Linked DNA regions of Homo sapiens. The gene in region 4 interacts genetically with the main gene of each other region. Each region holds a gene or a part of one and is shown on either strand. Other genes may lie near its edges.

Evidence for each region.
Region 1: changes in MAN1A1 (region 4) and SLC39A9 together harm fitness less than expected from each alone (positive genetic interaction), as found in Homo sapiens cells (one large-scale study listed by BioGRID).
Region 2: changes in MAN1A1 (region 4) and DEPDC5 together harm fitness more than expected from each alone (negative genetic interaction), as found in Homo sapiens cells (one large-scale study listed by BioGRID).
Region 3: changes in MAN1A1 (region 4) and TRAPPC13 together harm fitness more than expected from each alone (negative genetic interaction), as found in Homo sapiens cells (one large-scale study listed by BioGRID).
Region 5: changes in MAN1A1 (region 4) and TRAPPC9 together harm fitness more than expected from each alone (negative genetic interaction), as found in Homo sapiens cells (one large-scale study listed by BioGRID).

Annotation. Positions count from the first base shown.
Region 1 is NC_000014.9:69,450,673-69,454,200, forward strand, and holds part of SLC39A9 (zinc transporter ZIP9), read left to right. Parts: intron 1-2,568; coding exon 2,569-2,637; intron 2,638-3,528. UniProt on the Homo sapiens protein: Transports zinc ions across cell and organelle membranes into the cytoplasm and regulates intracellular zinc homeostasis. Participates in the zinc ions efflux out of the secretory compartments.
Region 2 is NC_000022.11:31,904,014-31,906,298, forward strand, and holds part of DEPDC5 (GATOR1 complex protein DEPDC5), read left to right. Parts: intron 1-1,970; coding exon 1,971-2,053; intron 2,054-2,191; coding exon 2,192-2,285. UniProt on the Homo sapiens protein: As a component of the GATOR1 complex functions as an inhibitor of the amino acid-sensing branch of the mTORC1 pathway.
Region 3 is NC_000005.10:65,656,013-65,659,540, forward strand, and holds part of TRAPPC13 (trafficking protein particle complex subunit 13), read left to right. Parts: intron 1-2,355; coding exon 2,356-2,489; intron 2,490-3,528.
Region 4 is NC_000006.12:119,185,762-119,189,261, forward strand, and holds part of MAN1A1 (mannosyl-oligosaccharide 1,2-alpha-mannosidase IA), read right to left. Parts: intron 2,817-3,500; coding exon 2,644-2,816; intron 1-2,643. UniProt on the Homo sapiens protein: Involved in the maturation of Asn-linked oligosaccharides. Progressively trim alpha-1,2-linked mannose residues from Man(9)GlcNAc(2) to produce Man(5)GlcNAc(2).
Region 5 is NC_000008.11:140,433,719-140,437,246, reverse strand, and holds part of TRAPPC9 (trafficking protein particle complex subunit 9), read left to right. Parts: intron 1-2,006; coding exon 2,007-2,135; intron 2,136-3,528. UniProt on the Homo sapiens protein: Functions as an activator of NF-kappa-B through increased phosphorylation of the IKK complex. May function in neuronal cells differentiation. May play a role in vesicular transport from endoplasmic reticulum to Golgi.

The DNA.
Region 1 (3,528 bases), on a different chromosome or scaffold from region 4:
GTGGCTGAGATGCGAGGGAGAATCATTTCAGTTCGAGGCTGCAGTGAGCTGTGATCGCACCACTTCACTCCAGCCTGGGCAACAAGCAAGACTCTGTCTCTAAAAAAATAAAAATAAAATGTGTGGGCGCAGTAGTAGCCAGTAATCCTATACAGAGAGTTAAATGTAGCTTGTGTTCCATTATTCTTCTTCCTGTTTTATCTCTGAAGTCATTATTTTTGCTGGCTTTCGTGTCTGATGACCTGGTTTTACCTATTTTCTGCAGAGTTTTATGTATTATAAAATGTCAATAAAATGTATTTATTAAATTTATGCTAAACTGCAGTCTTTATAGGTTTATAAAAACTTTCTAATTTTAAAGCCTCTAATTGTTTAAGATCCTAAGTATAACTGGATGATAAGCCTTTGTATAAAAAAAGGCCAGAGCCAGCTTGCACACAGTGTAATTTGACTGTTCCTTCCAGTTCAGGGTAGCATTGAGCTATTTGCTGGCGCAGAGTGATTAGGGTCTTTAGCTTCCCTTCTTTGCAGTGTTTTAATAGGAAAATATCATTTATTAATAAGAGGTAATATCTTACTTTACTTGTATACTTTTTCCATTGTAAACCCCTTCCTTTTGTATGCTGGACTCCTAAGAAGATTAAATCCCCTGTAACTTACTTGACTGATGTTCATCTGTCATTTTACCTGGCATTTTGATGTCCCCATCTTTTAACTTTATTTACTTGTATGTTTCCTACAAGAGCAGTAACATCTTTATTTAATACACATAAATGCTTTTTTCACTCTTCAGCAAGGATTTATTAAGTAACTATTGGGTGCCTAGTGCTGTGCTACATTCTGTCAGACATGTTAAAGGAAAAGAGAGGTAGAAAATTTAATGCTTTAGCATTTACAGTCCATCTGGGGATAGAAAACATTCAAGTGAAAATGGCTTTGTATATCTGAGGTGGTGTATAGAGGAACCTTTGAAGACTGCCTGCATAGATCACTAGGTCTAGGCAAGGGGAGAGTTGCTTTGAGCTGGAATCAATTTTTTAAATTTATTTTTAATTTTTCTTGAGACAAGGTCTTGCTCTGTCACCCGGGCTGGAGTCCAGTGGCATGAGCATAGCTTGTTGCAGCCTTAAACTCCTAGGCACAAGTGATCCTTCCACCTTAACCTCCTAGATACCTGGGACTACAGGCATGCACCACCACACTTGGCTAAATTTTAAAAATTTTGTAGAGATAGGGTCTTGTGATGTTGCCCAGGCTGGTCTCAAACTCCTGGCCTCAAGTGATCCTCCCCCATCGACCTCCCAGACTGCTGAGATTACAGGCATGAGCCACCATGCTTAGTCTTCAATTTTTTATTCTTTCTTGAGGGAAGTGGTTCTGTAGTTAGACTTTGATTGATGTCCAAGTTTTGGCTTAACAAGCTGAGAAGTTCAGTATGTGCCAAGAATTACAGGTGAGGAGACTTGGGGAAAGGAGAATAAGAAGGTTTTGTTCGATGGTGTTAAGCAAACTGGTTTAACTAGACTGGACATTGAGAAATAAGTTGGAACTAGTTGATAAAGGGCTTAAGAACCTATCTAATATAGCAGTTTGCCCTGAATTTGAAAAGCAGCAGATTCTTAAATGGTAACTGACACATCATAAGGGTGGTGGGTTTTTTGTTTGTTTGTTTTTGAGACGGAGTTTCACTCTTGTTGCCCAGGCTGGAGGGCAATGGCACAATCTCGGCTCATTGCAACTTCTGCCTCCTGGGTTCAAGCAGTTCTCCTGCCTCAGCTCCCAAGTAGCCGAGATTACAGGCGCCCGCCACCATACTCAGCTAATTTTTATATTTTTTAGTAGAAACGTGGTTTCACCATGTTGGTCAGGCTGGTCTCAAACTCCTGACCTCAGGTGATCCACCTGCCTCGGCCTCCCAAAGTGCTGGGATTACAGGTGTGAGCTACTGTGCCCGGCCAAGGGTGGTGTTTTCAAACGATGAATCTGACACGGATGTGTAAGATTAATTATATTAGGGAAAAATGAGAGTAGGGAACCTGATGCTAATTTAGGTTTGAGTGATGAAAATTTAGGTTAGGGTGATGGCAATAAAAATGTGACAGATGTTAGAATGAAGATAAAGTTGCAGGATGCTAAGGAAGAGATAGACAATGACAATTAGATTGGTCTGGAAAGAAATGATCAGAGGCCATAGATCACTTTCCTTGGAATAGTAGAGGAAGAGGATTAAGGAATAGGAGGAAGTTGGGGCCATTGGGGGTTACACATTTCAGTGATTTTTCTGTTAAGGTAGGGCTGAGTCAAATGAAGAGTTCCCTCTTAGCCACCTCTTCAGGACAGGGAAATCTTCTAAGGGTTTGAAGCAGAAAGAAAAAAGATAGTGGCCGGGTGCGGTGGCTCACGCCTATCATCTCAACACTTTGGGAGGGTGAGGCGGGCGGATCATTGGAGGTCAGGAGTTTGAGACCAGCCTGGCCAACATTAGTGAAATTCTTTCACCTCCAGACCAATGTTTGAACAGTTTCTGTCTCACATAGCTTAACGCTGTCTTTCTCATTTTCACTTTAGATCCAGAAGCAGCAAGGTCTAGCAATTCCAAAATCACCACCACGCTGGGTCTGGTTGTCCATGCTGCAGGTAGGGTTGGATTGCAGTGGAACTTCTTTGTTTTCTATCGCACAGGGGAGACCTTAGTGTTTATATTTCAGGGACCGTCCTCATTGAATGCTCTTGGACTGGCCTTTGAGGAAAAGGTTTCTTAATGAAGTCCTCCAACACAAGCACAAGCTTGGTGTGCTCAGTGTCAGGGGTTTGCAAGCTAAGAATGGTTTCTATACTTTTTAATGGTTTAAAAAAAAAAAGAGAGAGAGGAACATACTGTAGCACATGAGAATTATATAATTCAAATTAAGGAAGTTTTATTGGAACACAGCCTTGCCCATGTATTTATGTATTGTTTGTGACAGTGAATTTGATTAGGGAAAAATGAGAGTAGGGAACCTATTGCTGATTTAGGTTTGTTTGAGTGATGAAAATTTAGGTTAGGGTGATGGCAATAAAAAATGGAGAAAGGCAAATGTGACTGATGTTAGAATGAAGATAAAGTTGCAGGAGGCTGAGGAAGAGATAGACAATGACAATGATCCATCTCTTTTGTTTTTGTGCAACAGTGGCAGAATTGAACAGTTGCAAGAGACCAAATAACTGCAAAGCCTCAAATATTTACTGTCTAGCTCTTAAGAAGAAGTTTGCTCTTTTCATTCTTGGCTCTAGAATGTCATCTGGAAAAGAGCCTTGGCGCTTCTGTCCTGAACAGCTCTGTTACCAGTTTATATGCAAAACACCAGTTTAAGCAGAAGTGGTATGCAGTGGAATGCAGAGATCTTAGCATTGCTGACAGGGTACACTTTAGAATCATAACCCAAACCTAGTCCTAGTAATAGAATTCTGTCAGTGGCAAAGAAAGGCATGTGAAAGGTGGTACACTGTTACCTGGCCCTTTCTAAGTATAATATGCTTTTCTAACAA
Region 2 (2,285 bases), on a different chromosome or scaffold from region 4:
ATAAGGTCCATCTCAGAAAGAGCTAAAAAAGTGTCCATCTTCCTCAGCCCCTAGGCTGTGACCTACAGCTCCTCCTTCATCTTCCTCAGCCCCTAGGCTGTGACCTACAGCTCCTCCTTCATCTTCCTCAGCCCCTAGGCTGTGACCTACCGCTCCTCCTTCATCTTCCTCAGCCCCTAGGCTGTGACCTACAGCTCCTCCTTCATCTTCCTTGGGGCAGGTGGAGATGATTATATCCCCTCCCCTGCCCTTACTGCGTTTCTGTCTTGCATTCTCCCTGAGTGGACAGTCAGGTGGCCAGGAACCATGTGGTTAAATTGCCTTTTTGTTCTTTCCTGGTGACCTAAGGAAGAAATGAGGTAAAAAAAAATTACTCTGGTAAAAAAAAATCAGGCTGATCCATGCTGAGGAAATCAGTAGCCTTAATTAGAAAGTAGAGAGAAAGCAGGCTGGGTGTGGTGGCTCACGCCTGTAATCCCAGCAGTTTGGGAGGCCGAAGCAGGCGGATCACCTGAGGTCAGCAGTTCAAGACCAGCCTGGCCAAAATGGTGAAACCCCGTCTCTACTAAAAATACAAAAATTAACTGGTCATGGTGGCGCGTGCCTGTAATCCTAGCTACTTGGGAGGCTGGAAGCACAAGAATTGCTTGAACCCGGGAGGTGGAGGTTGCGGTGAGCCAAGATTGTACCACTGCAGTCCAGCCTGGATGACAGAGCAAGAGTAGAGAGGATTTTGCAAAGGCAAAATCCAGAGCCAATCCTCATCATATAATCAGCCTGTAGACAGGGAGCTTACAGTGCATAGTAGCCTACCCATTTAGTTTGCATATTTGACTTCATGTATTCTTTGGTAAAAAATTATGGAATGCAGATTATGTAGAGGATACAACACAGCACCTCCCCAAGGAACTCAGTCCAGGAAAGAAGACAGGCATTTTCCCTTCTTTAGTTCTGCCTACATCACTGTCTCCATTATATAAACCCCTCAGACTTAGAGGGCAGGAGCCACATCTGTTACCACGTCCTTTACAGCTCTTAGCAGGTAGAACTGTAATAAATGTGCCTTATGGAAATAGAAAAACCAGGAATAGAACAAGCCATAGATGAAAAATGGCTCCTCCTGCCCATTTCCAGAGCACAGGGAAGCAGAGAGCCCCAGCTTGGCGTTCCTCTTTTTTTTTCTTTTTGAGATGGAGTCTCGCCCTGTCACCCAGGCTGGAGTGCAATGGCATGATCTTAGCTCACTGCAGCCTCCGCCTCCCGGATTCAAGTGATTCTCCTGGCTAATTCCAGAACAATCCTGGCTAATACAAAAATTAGCCAGGCATGGTGGCACATGCCTGTAATCCCAGCTACTCAGGAGACTGAGGCGGAGAATCACTTGAACCCAGGAGGCAGAGGTTGCAGTGAGCCGAGATCATGCCATTGCACTCCAGTCTGGGCAACAGTGCGAGATTCCCTCTCACCAAAAAAAAAGATAAGGACCTTCCCTGGAGGAATGGATAGCCTCGAGTATGCGGGTGGGTATGTGTGGCCTGTCAAGACATGAGGTAGATTCCAGTGAGAGGCCCAGGATGGGATGGGGGAGAACGCTCAGTGGGAAGGTCTGCTGGGATGGGTAGGGAACATGGTAGGAGGGACGGGCTGTCTGAGCAGAGATGAAGGCTGGATGAAGAGTGCAGCCGGTGGGAAGGCTTTCTTTCACTATGGTGGTAGTGACATGGTGGACCACGGAGATGACGGGCTGCTGGGTGTGAGGAGGTCTGGTAAGCCATGGTGTTGGAAGAGGTAGAGGTCAGAAAGTGGTGAGGGTGAGGACAAAAATAAGCAGCCTGCATGTGCAATCTGGAAAGAGATCTTTCCAGATCTCTGTGTCTCAGGCTGTCCGAGAGTCCTATCAGCTACATTCTCTTCCCTTGCCCCTTTAACTAAGGAGGCGCTGATTAGCATGTCTTCCTGTCCTTCCCTAGGTTTGGGTTTGTACAAGATAAATATTCTGCCTCTGCTTTTAACTTCCCTGCTGAGAACAAGCCTCAGTATATCCACGTTACAGGTGAGGAGCTACGGGCAGAGTTGGGCAGGTGGGTCCACATCCCTTTCCTTGCACCAAGCCTATGGCTGCAGAACCACCTCAGCAGGCTCCAGGAGCCCTCCTGGTGGCTGCCACACAGGCGCTCCCCTTTCTCTTCAGGAACAGTGTTTCTGCAGCTGCCCTACTCCAAGCGCAAGTTCTCAGGGCAGCAGCGGCGGCGGCGGAACTCCACCAGCTCCACCAACCAGAACAT
Region 3 (3,528 bases), on a different chromosome or scaffold from region 4:
GACTGTATAATCGAAATTCATTTTCAGATGCACAGTGGTTTTAGTTTTAAGTCTGGGTCAGGTGATGATGGCCGCTTGACAAAATGAAACAGAAGAAAAGCAAATTTTCCCAACTTGGCTAAAATTTTGTTTTCAAAGTTATATTTACAATAAGCAGCATTTGCTTATATCACATTACATATGTAATAACATCAACTGCCTTAGCACTGAATTCTTAATTTTTAAAATATCAAATTGCTTTACACTAACTGTTCAAACTAACTTGATTTTCCATTATGCTGCTTGTTTTTCTTTCGTTTTATCTAAGCTCTTCCTAAATTTATGCAGAAAATTGCAGTTTTTAAATTGAAATGTGGGTCTGTGGTTATTTTTTTAAAAGCAATGGATTGATGGGATATATGTACTTTTTTTTAGAACCAGTAACCAAAAAATGCCATTAAATGATGCATTTTTTTAAACTGATAAATCATTTTATTTCTATTTTCATTTGAACACATGTCCCAAAAACTAAAGAATCTGTTTTATTTTAGATAATAGTACATTATATTATAACTTAATCATTATATTTTTGCAAATGATTTTCATTTTCTTGGTGTTAGTGTTTAAAAAGCTCAGCCAGGCGCGGTGGCTCATGCCTGTAATCTCAGCACTTTGGGAGGCCGAGGCGAGCGGATCACGAGGTCAGGAGTTTGAGACCAGCCTGGCCAACATGGTGAAACCTCATCTCTATAAAAAATACAAAAATTAGCCAGGCATGGTGGCACTTGCCCGTAATCCCAGTTACTTGAGAGGCTGAGGCAGGAGAATCACTTGAACTCAGGAGGCAGAGGTTGCAGTGAGCTGAGATCGCACCACTGCACTCCTGCCTGGGTGACAGAGTGAAACTTCGTCTCAAAATAAATAAAAATACAAAAATTTAGCTGGGCATGGTGGCACTGCCTGTAGTCCCAGCTACTAGGGAGGCTGAGGCAGGAGAATCGCTTGAACCTGGGAGGTGGAGGTTGCAGTGAGAGGAGATCTTGCCACTGCATTCTACTCTGGGCAACAGAGCAAGACTCCATCTTGTGGGGGTTGGGGGAAGCTCATAGGCCAGGCACAGTGGCTCACACCTCTAATCCCAGCACTTTGGGAGGCCGAGGTGGGTGGATCACTTGAGGTCAGGAGTTCTAGACCAGCCTGGCCAACATGGTGAAACCCTGTCTCTACTAAAAATACAAAAATTAGCTCAGTATGATATTGCGCGCCTATAATCCCAGCTACTCGGGAGGCTGAGGCAGGAGAATCCCTTGAACCCGGGAGGCGGAGGTTGCAGTGTACCAAGATCACCCCACCACACTCCAGCCTGGGTGACAGAATGAGACTGTCTCAAAAAAATAAAAAGCTCTTAAGTGGCAAATTTTTCTGGTCATAGTTGATTTTATGTTATTTATGTGTAGTAAACATATTACTATGAAACTTTTGAAAAAAATTATTGAATACCCTTAGTGTATCATTTTTCATGTAGGTTTGTTTCAAAGATAAATCAAGTTAGTCTGTTATCCTTCAATTACATGAAGGAAAATAATAACCAAATAGCATAAAATAATGTTTAGCATAATTAGGGGAATTAATTTATCTAAATTTATCTAATTATCTAATTTATCTAATTATTAAAATTACCTACTGGCAAATATTGCTAAATAGCATCAGCTTTAAAATCTGTCACTGAGGCTACAAAATACCTTTTGCCTGATTTAAAAGCTCTACGATGGTGAAGTATAATCCACATATTCTTTTTTTAGCCCTCAATATACATTTAAAATGAACTAAGAAATCACTAATGACCACTCGCAAATTGCTTTAATTTAAAAAGTTAAATCCTTCAAGATTACAAAATAGATTATTCATAGTATTAGTGGTCACTACACTATCTAAATTGGCATTAATATGACAATCAAAGTTATACTGCCATATTATAATGAAGACTTAATTATCTTAACGTAATACTGAAATTATAGGAGCATAGGTATATTCATCATACTAAAGCACATTTTAATATTTTAATACCTAATGAAAAGAAAGAGTATTTGTAAATGAAATTCCAGTTAAGTATTTTGGGATGTTAAGACAAAATATAGTTATCCTCCATCCATTGTTTGACAAGGTATCAGTTGACTAACACTTGACTTTGCCCCTGTTAATTATGATAGGGTGAAGATTTCTTTTCTTGCATTAATTGTGGTAACTTTGATTTGCAGGCATGAACTAATCACATTTGTGGTTAATATTTTTTCTTCATATAGATAAGATATTTTTGTTGAGATAAATATTTTAAATGCCACCACACCTTGGTGGATATTTTTTTCATATCCTCAGACTGATGAAGTATTTCTGGAAGCCCAGATTCAGAATATGACAACCTCACCTATGTTTATGGAGAAGGTTTCACTGGAGCCATCTATTATGTACAATGTAACAGAATTAAATTCAGTCAGCCAAGCTGGAGAATGGTAAATATTAATTTATGAAGTCTTTATCCTTGTTTTGAAAGATACATGTTTTTCTAAACATCCATTGCTCTTCAGTGGGTTTTTTTTTAATAGACTTTTTTTAAAGAATTTGAGGTTCATAGAAAAATTCATCAGAAAGTAGAGTTTCCACATACCCTCTTCCACTCCTCACAGTTTCTCTTGTTATTTACGTCTTGTTTTTTATTTTATTTTTATTTTTATTTATTTATTTATTTATTTATTTTTTGAAAGAGTCCAGCTCTATGCAGTGGCATGATCTTGATCTAGGCTCACTGTAACCTCCACCTCCCAGGTTCAAGCAATTTTGGTGCATCAGCCTCCCAAGCTGCTGGGATTACAGGTGCATGCCACCACGCTTGGTTAATTTTTTTATTTTTAGTAGAGATGGGGTTTCACCATATTGGCCAGGCTGGTCTTCAGCTCCTGACCTCAAGCGATCTGCCCACCTTATCCTCCCAAAGTGCTGTCCTTACAGGCGTGAGCCACTGTGCCTGGCCTACATCTTGTTTTAATGTGGTACATTTACTACAATTGATGAAATGATATTGACACTGATTACTAACTAATGTCTATAATTTACATTAGAATTCACACTTTTTGTTGTATGTTTTATTGTTTTTGGTTTTTGGTTTGTTTTGTTTTAAGAGACAGGTCTCATTAATGTTGCCCAGGCTGAAGTCAAATTTCTGGACTCAAACGATCTCCCAAGTATCTGGGACTATAGTCAAGCACTGTAGGTTTTGACAAATATATAACATGTATCCACCATTACTATATTATGCAAAATAGTTTCACTTTCCAAAAACTCTCCTGTGCTCCATCTTCATCCCTCCATTACATAAAAATAAAGATCCTAGCCCTTTTAATTTCATGTTTTACTATTCAAAGCATTTGGTCTTTTAAGTCTCATAAAAATCCAGTGAGGTAAATATGAATCCTATCATTGCTATCCTGCAAATAATAAAATGGAGGAATGTGAAGGAATGGTAGAGAAGTTAAAAAGAGTAAGGGTGAATGT
Region 4 (3,500 bases):
GTAGAGACGGGGTTTCACCGTGTTAGCCAGGATGGTCTCGATCTCCTGACCATGATCATGATCCACCCACTTTGGCCTCCCAGTTTTTTTTTTTTTTTTTTTTTAAATATAAATCTACTAAAAGAACAAGTTGGACCATAAGCTGTGAAAAAATCACACTGCGAAGAGAGAAGAGAGGTTCACACTATTCAGCCCTAAAAGACCACAGCTGGAAACCAGGTCAGGAGAAGAAAATCAAGGGAAATGATGGATGAGGAAAGGAAGAGATGGCAGAACCTGCTGTCTTCGGATAATTGAGGAGCTGAAATGCAGAAGGGAGATTTTTTCCCTCTGGTACCCCCAGAGCACAGAACACTGTAAATTGTGGCTTCAAAATAAATAACTTTCTAACACCTTCAATATTACCAATTGGAATGAGTTACTTTATTAGGTGATACATTCCCCTTTGCTGGAAAGTCCTTGGGTTGATGAGGAACAGCTATCTTGCAAAGATATGGAGGGGAGTCTTGTCTTTAAGCGGAAAGCTGGATGAGGTGATTTTTAAGACCCCCTATGTTTCAGTTTGCGTTCCCTTAAAAATAAAGCATGAGACAAGGGTTGGACGCAGGATGCAGGAAGTCTATCAGGGAGGTGACATCAGGAAGTGGGCAAGTGGGAAAAGCAAAACAGGGACAGAAGAGCCAATGAATCATATTGTTCAACTGTGTGCAACGAGGCTCACTCCTGCTAGAAACCCTCTGAAGAACCATGTAGCATGCATTCCAGAATGATTCTTGAAGGAAAGAAGACTGGGACAGTTATCCACCAACTCCAAAACCTCCTTGGTTGACAGCCATTAACTCCCCAGCACTTCCCAGACCACAGCCAGCTGGCTAGGGAAAAGCTCTTCCACCTTCTTTTCCTGACATGGTTTCCAGCTGTGGTCTCAAGTATGCATCAGAACAGCCAAGTGCTGGAGGTGGGAGCTGCAAGCATATGCGGGGCTGCTGCTGAAACACAGGAGGCCACGGGGGTGGGCATAACACCAGGGGAAAAACGTGCGGCCATGCCTTCGAAGTCCCAGTTTTTCTGGTTTAAAAAATGCAAGACCCTACAGCACTCCTGGCTCACCACTATAGCTCAGGTTCTAGCAGAGGTTACTGGGGGCATCCCCAAAATTGAGACCTCAGTGTTGTGACACAGGGAAACGATTTCAGGTCATATATTATGTTAAAGAGTTGACAAGAAATAAAAATCATAACACATAAACCAACCTTATGATCTCATAAACAAGCAACCCCCTGAAGAACACAGCAAACCAAAGCATCCTGTCTACCTGGCAATACGAATTTGCTTACTTCCCATTTTTGATACCTTCTCGGCCATACATTTTGTACATTCTAACATCTATAAAATGGATGTCATAACTTAATTGGTAGTGTTATTTTTCTTAGTGGTATATAAAATAATGATGCTTCTTACTAATTATGGTGTTTTAGATTTGATGGAACACACCATTCCTGATATTTTCAACTTAAAATATTCAATTCATTTGCTGGCCAATTGAAGACCAAAACAATTCCCTATCACCAAAGTTTAGAAAAGCTTCAACTTTAACATTTTCTCCAGAGGAAAAAAACAGAAATGTAAAGAAATTACAATGACTACTGATTAAATGTAATAAAACTGCCCCCTCAAAGAGGCCTAGAGAATTGCTGTTATTTAAAATGACTGATGATTAATGATAAGACACATATTAAATGAAGAGGATAATAAGCAAGATTCACCGATGGCTTCCTAAGATATTAGTTAAATTTTACCAAAGGCAATATTCATTTTAGATTTCCTGAGAGAAGTCATTCCTCATGGACAGTTTTTAAAGATAGCTAACTTTCTAACAAAGAGTGCTAGAGAATGAGAGTGTAATTAAAGAATTTGCTTGTTCTTATCCCCTGAATTCCCTCCCACTCCTTGAGGAATAATAACTCTTACAATTAGACAGACATTGTTAGATGCATATCCTGCAGGTTGCCTCCTCAGGCATTCGGCACACAAAGCATTCACTAGATTGGTTTAGGAAGGAGGTATACTATCCTCAGCAGGAAGAGACCCAAGAGGTGACAGACAAAACAACACACTGGGCAGATGGAAAGCTTATAGATATTCCAAGAAACCTGAGACTGGTAAAGGAATATCCTTATACAAAGTAATTCTTCTATAAGTGCTTTCTAAAAGTTAGATCTAAGTAGCTATTTACTCTAAGTAAAAGCATATACTAGCATTTTAAAGCCCAAAGACAGAAAAAAACATGAAGTGGTTTATTGAAATAGAGGTGAATACCCCAAGCTGCCAACAACCCTTAGGTGGAATTAAGAGATCATCATTTTTGTATTAATGGGAACTTAATTTTAGACTATGCCTTTCTAGTTATCTCCTTCAATATCTAAGTCTATCAGTAGATATATCTATATCAATGTTATACAAAGCAAAGCTGAAGCCAGGGATATAAAATGACTTCAATGAAAATACACAGTCCTGGGTGGAAAAAATCCTGGTCGAAGCATTAAAAATTATAGAAAAGTTGATAAGCCTGATTTATGGGTATCACTGAACATTTTTTACTATGAAATTTATCTATAAGAAACATGCAAATTAAAACATCACCTCTACGGCTTCCCAGGCCCATTTCCTGTACTTTGGATCATGAGTCAGTCTCCACATATACATGTAAGTCTCCATAACTTCTGGCCGTAAGATGTAGTATTTTTCATTTTGTCTTGTAGCGATGGCTTCAACACCACCATCAAATCTGAAAGCTTCTGGTCCCAGTTTCATAACTAAAGGACATGGAATGAATGAATAAGGGTTATTTTCCTGGACAGTGCTTACAGTCAATAACTTAAATGAAACTAGAAAGTACAGTCATCCCTCAGTATCTATGAGGGACTGGTTCCAGGACCCTCCGAGGATAACAAAATCCATGGATCCTTGAGTCCCTTATATAAAATGGCAAAGTATTCGCATACAACCTGGGTACATCCTCCCATATACTTTAAATCACCTTGTTTACTTATACTACTTAATACAGTGTAAATGTTATGTAACTAGGTGTTATACTGTATTGTTTAGGGAATAAAGATAAGAACAAAAACTCTATAAATGTTCACTACAGACAGAACCATCCATTTTTTGGGAACATTTCTGATCTGCAGTTGTGGAACCCAGGGATACGAAGGTCTGACTGTACTTTAACAACACTGAAGAGAAATGTCAAAGTAGTCATTTTAAAAACGAGTTATAAACATCATGTAATATATAATATTCATATACTTAAACAATTTAGTCATTGAAAAGAGTCCATTTTAGAAAATATTAACAATTTATTTTTTTCATTTAACCCCCATTTACTGAGCACCCACCAGGCAGATACAAGGCACCATGAAATACCATTTGAGTTAGCCAGAAACTTAGTGGTTGACAATCCTAAGTAATTTCGTAACAGAAGGCCAGTTATTTACACT
Region 5 (3,528 bases), on a different chromosome or scaffold from region 4:
CCTCACTTCTACAAAACAAAATTAAAAAACATTAACTGGGTGGAGACCAGCCTGAGCAACATAGGGAGACCTCACTTCTACCAAAATAAAATAAAATAAAATAAAATAAAAAGACATTAGCTGGGCTTGGTGGTCTGTGCCTGTAGTCCCAGCTACTTGTGAGGGTGAGGCAGGAGGATCGCTTGGGCTCAGGAGGTCAAGGCTGCAGTGAGCCACGATCGCACCACTGCACTCCATCCTGAGCAAGAGTGAGACTTTGTCTCTTAAGAAAAAACCAAAATAAAACTTAAAATGGACTTAAATTTAGTTTTTTAAAGAGGCTAGGGAAATAGAAGTGGGGAAAGAAAGGGAGTAAGAATTAGGGATGGAAAAGAAAAGAGAATCAGATAAAGGATTATGCAGGCTGAGAAAGACATAGTTTTACTTGGTTTTCTTGAAAGAGCATTGTCTCCCTAAGTACTCCTTATTGTATCAATTAGAGAATCTGTGCATCTCCCAGTGGGCTCTGAGACTAGGGCATGTGCAGCAGGTGCTTCTCCAGAAAGACTGGTACTGCCCATATGCCTTCCCCATGCGGCGCTGGACTGGATGAGGAGGGCTCCTAAAGGGCACACAGAGAAGGACGGTGCTGTGTGCCGTGGGCCTCTTCCATGCTCAGCCTCTCAGAAGTGGACAGTGGAGTTGTCCACAAGCTACTTAGGCCTGACATCACAGCAGACTGAATGTAGAAGCTGATAGAAGATCCAGCTGACTTGTATTAACTCTGATATTAAAGAAATGTGTGAACATGTCAAATAATGCCATTCCTCCAGTACTTTATTTTTGTTTTGGAAAACAATTATTTTTCATAAAACTGTTAACACATGACAAGCTTATTATTTTATTTTTTATTTTTATTTTTTTGAGTCAGTCTCACTCTGTCGCCCAGGCTGGAGTGCAATGGCGTGATTTCAGCTCACTGAAACTTCCATTTCCCAGGTTCAAGCGATTCTCTTGCCTCAGCCTCCCGAGTAGCTGGGGCTACAGGTGTGTTTTATCATGCCTGGCCAATTTTTGTATTTTTAGTAGAGTCAGGGTTTCACCATGTTGGCCAGGCTGGTCTTGAACTCCTGACCTCAAGTGATCCACCCACCTTGGCTTCCCAAAGTGCTGGGATTACTGGCATGAGCCACTGCGTCTGGCCTATTTTAAGAGGAATTAATACATAAATACTTAAATCCTTTTCTCAGTTTTATTTTCCAATATGGTAAATATCTACAGGTGTAACCCACATCACAAAAAAAGCTCTTTGTGATCCTAAGTCATTTTTAAGAGCATCAAGGAGTTTTTAGACCAAAAGTTTAAGGAGCACTGAGTTAATGGATAAAGATGATAGAGATGAATACTGTGGCACACCTTCTAAGGCATGTGGCATAGCTGGAGATTATTAGGTTGTTACGTCATGAGAGAAGAACGGACTGTGTAGCGAGTTAATATGGCTGTTTTTGAGGAAGAGGGAGGACTACAACCTCAAAAGGAGCAGATGCCTATGGGGTGCATGGTCTGGAAAGGCATTCTGGTCTTGCTTTGGTGCTATTACTGTGAAATATTTTCAATCCAGGGCACTTTCTGTTATACATCTCTGTAGCTCCAGAACCTGGCGCAGTCTGCCACACAGTTTGTGCAGGAATGCCGGCCACGTGAATGGATGAACGCAGAGGCTGGCCTGTTTTACGTGTGCAGTCAGCCCTGCAGGGAAACCTTGAGTGTGGTGAGAGTGTTCTGCATTGCCTGCCTGGACATGGGCATGGGAAAGACAGGTGGCAAGTTCCCATTTGCAAAAAACTAGTGATCTTTAGGTTTGATCTTTGTTTTGGGAGAAAAATTGGCATTTCCAAATAATCCACCTGTTTAAATCATTGTTAGTTACTGCAGTTTGAGCTAATGAAGGGTCACTGACTTGACTAATGATGCTGGTTTTTGTTTTTTGTTTTCTGGTTTTTGTTTTTTGTTTTCTTAATGCCCAGCTGCCCTGGAAGGATTGTGTTCAGCTTCTGTCATCTATCACTATCCTGGTGGAACTGGTGGGAAGAGTGGAGCTCGGAGGTTCCAGGGCAGCACCCTTCCTGCTGAAGCAGCCAATAGACACCGGCCAGGTGAGCTCTGCCCTTTTTCCGGCCTCTGCTCACTTGCAGTCTTTAAATAAAGCAGACTCATTTGTTACTTTTTCCTTTGAGTTAGGACTAATATTTAAATAAACTGTAAAATCTGTTGAGTCAGTAATTTTTTTTTTTTTTTGAGACAGAGTCTTGCACTGTTGCCCGGGCTGGAGTGCAGTGGCGCAATCTCGGCTCACCACAGCCTCCACCTCCCAGGTTCAAGCAATTCTCCTCCCTCAGCCTCCTGACTAGTTGGGATTACAGGCGCCCGCCACCACACATGGCTAATTTTTTGTATTTTTAATAGAGGCGGGGTTTCACTATGTTGGCCAGGCTGGTCTCGAATGCTTGACCTCGTGATCCACCCGCCTCGGCCTCCCAAAGTGCTGGGATTACAGGCGTGAGCCACCATGCCCTGCCCAGAAATCTTGTATGAGACATTTTGTTCTGATTTTATTGAATACTTTCAATCTTACTGAATACCACTAATGGGTTAGAATGATTGGTTGATTTCTGGAATACTTGTGTAAAATTTCCTGGTAGAACAGACTTGAGGTTCTGTGTCTAAGTCTTTTTTATAATTTTATGTATTAGGAGAAGCTAGTCCCAGAGGTCAATTTTAATAAGCTGATTCAGGGCCTGGGAGCAGTTTCTTATTTTATTGGCTGATGACATTCTCTCAATGAGTTGTTTGATTTGCTTATGCTTGGTAGAACCAATGAAGAGTGAGAAAACTTCTTGGGTAGAGCAGACCCACGAATGCTGAATGAACATGAACGTTTTGGTCCTTGATGAATGAACCTGCCTTTAATGGCTCAGGATTTAGTCATCATGTTGCATAGGTCACAAAGAAGGAAGCAACAAAATAATGAAAGCAGGGATTTATTGAAAACGAAAGTACACTCCACAGTGTGGGAGTGGGCCGAGCAGCGGGCTCAAGGGCACGGATACAGAATCTTCTTGGGTCTAAATACCCACTAGAAGTTTCCCATTGGCCACTTCATGCTCACCTCTTGTAAATGAAGTGGTAGCCTGCAGTTAGTCTGATTGGTTGCGGAAAGCAGCCACTCAGAGGCTAAGGTGAAGTTACAAAGTTATGCTTCTATGCAAATGAAAAGTAGACAAAGTTATACTTCTCTGCAAACTAAGACTCCACCAGCAATCAGTCTGAGTGGTTCCGGACAGCCAGTTTCCCACCTGCCATGCAGAAAAGGTCAAAGGGAGCAGCCTCTGGTCCTTTTGTTACTTAGTCATGGAAAGTTAGGGTTTTCCTTTCAATGTAGTTGTAGGAAGTCTGTGTGAAACAACCTTAAGTTCTTTGCCTCTAGATCCTATTCTTCTGCCTCAGGCTTATCTTTTTTGTGATTGAGAAAATTTTGATTTTTTTCCT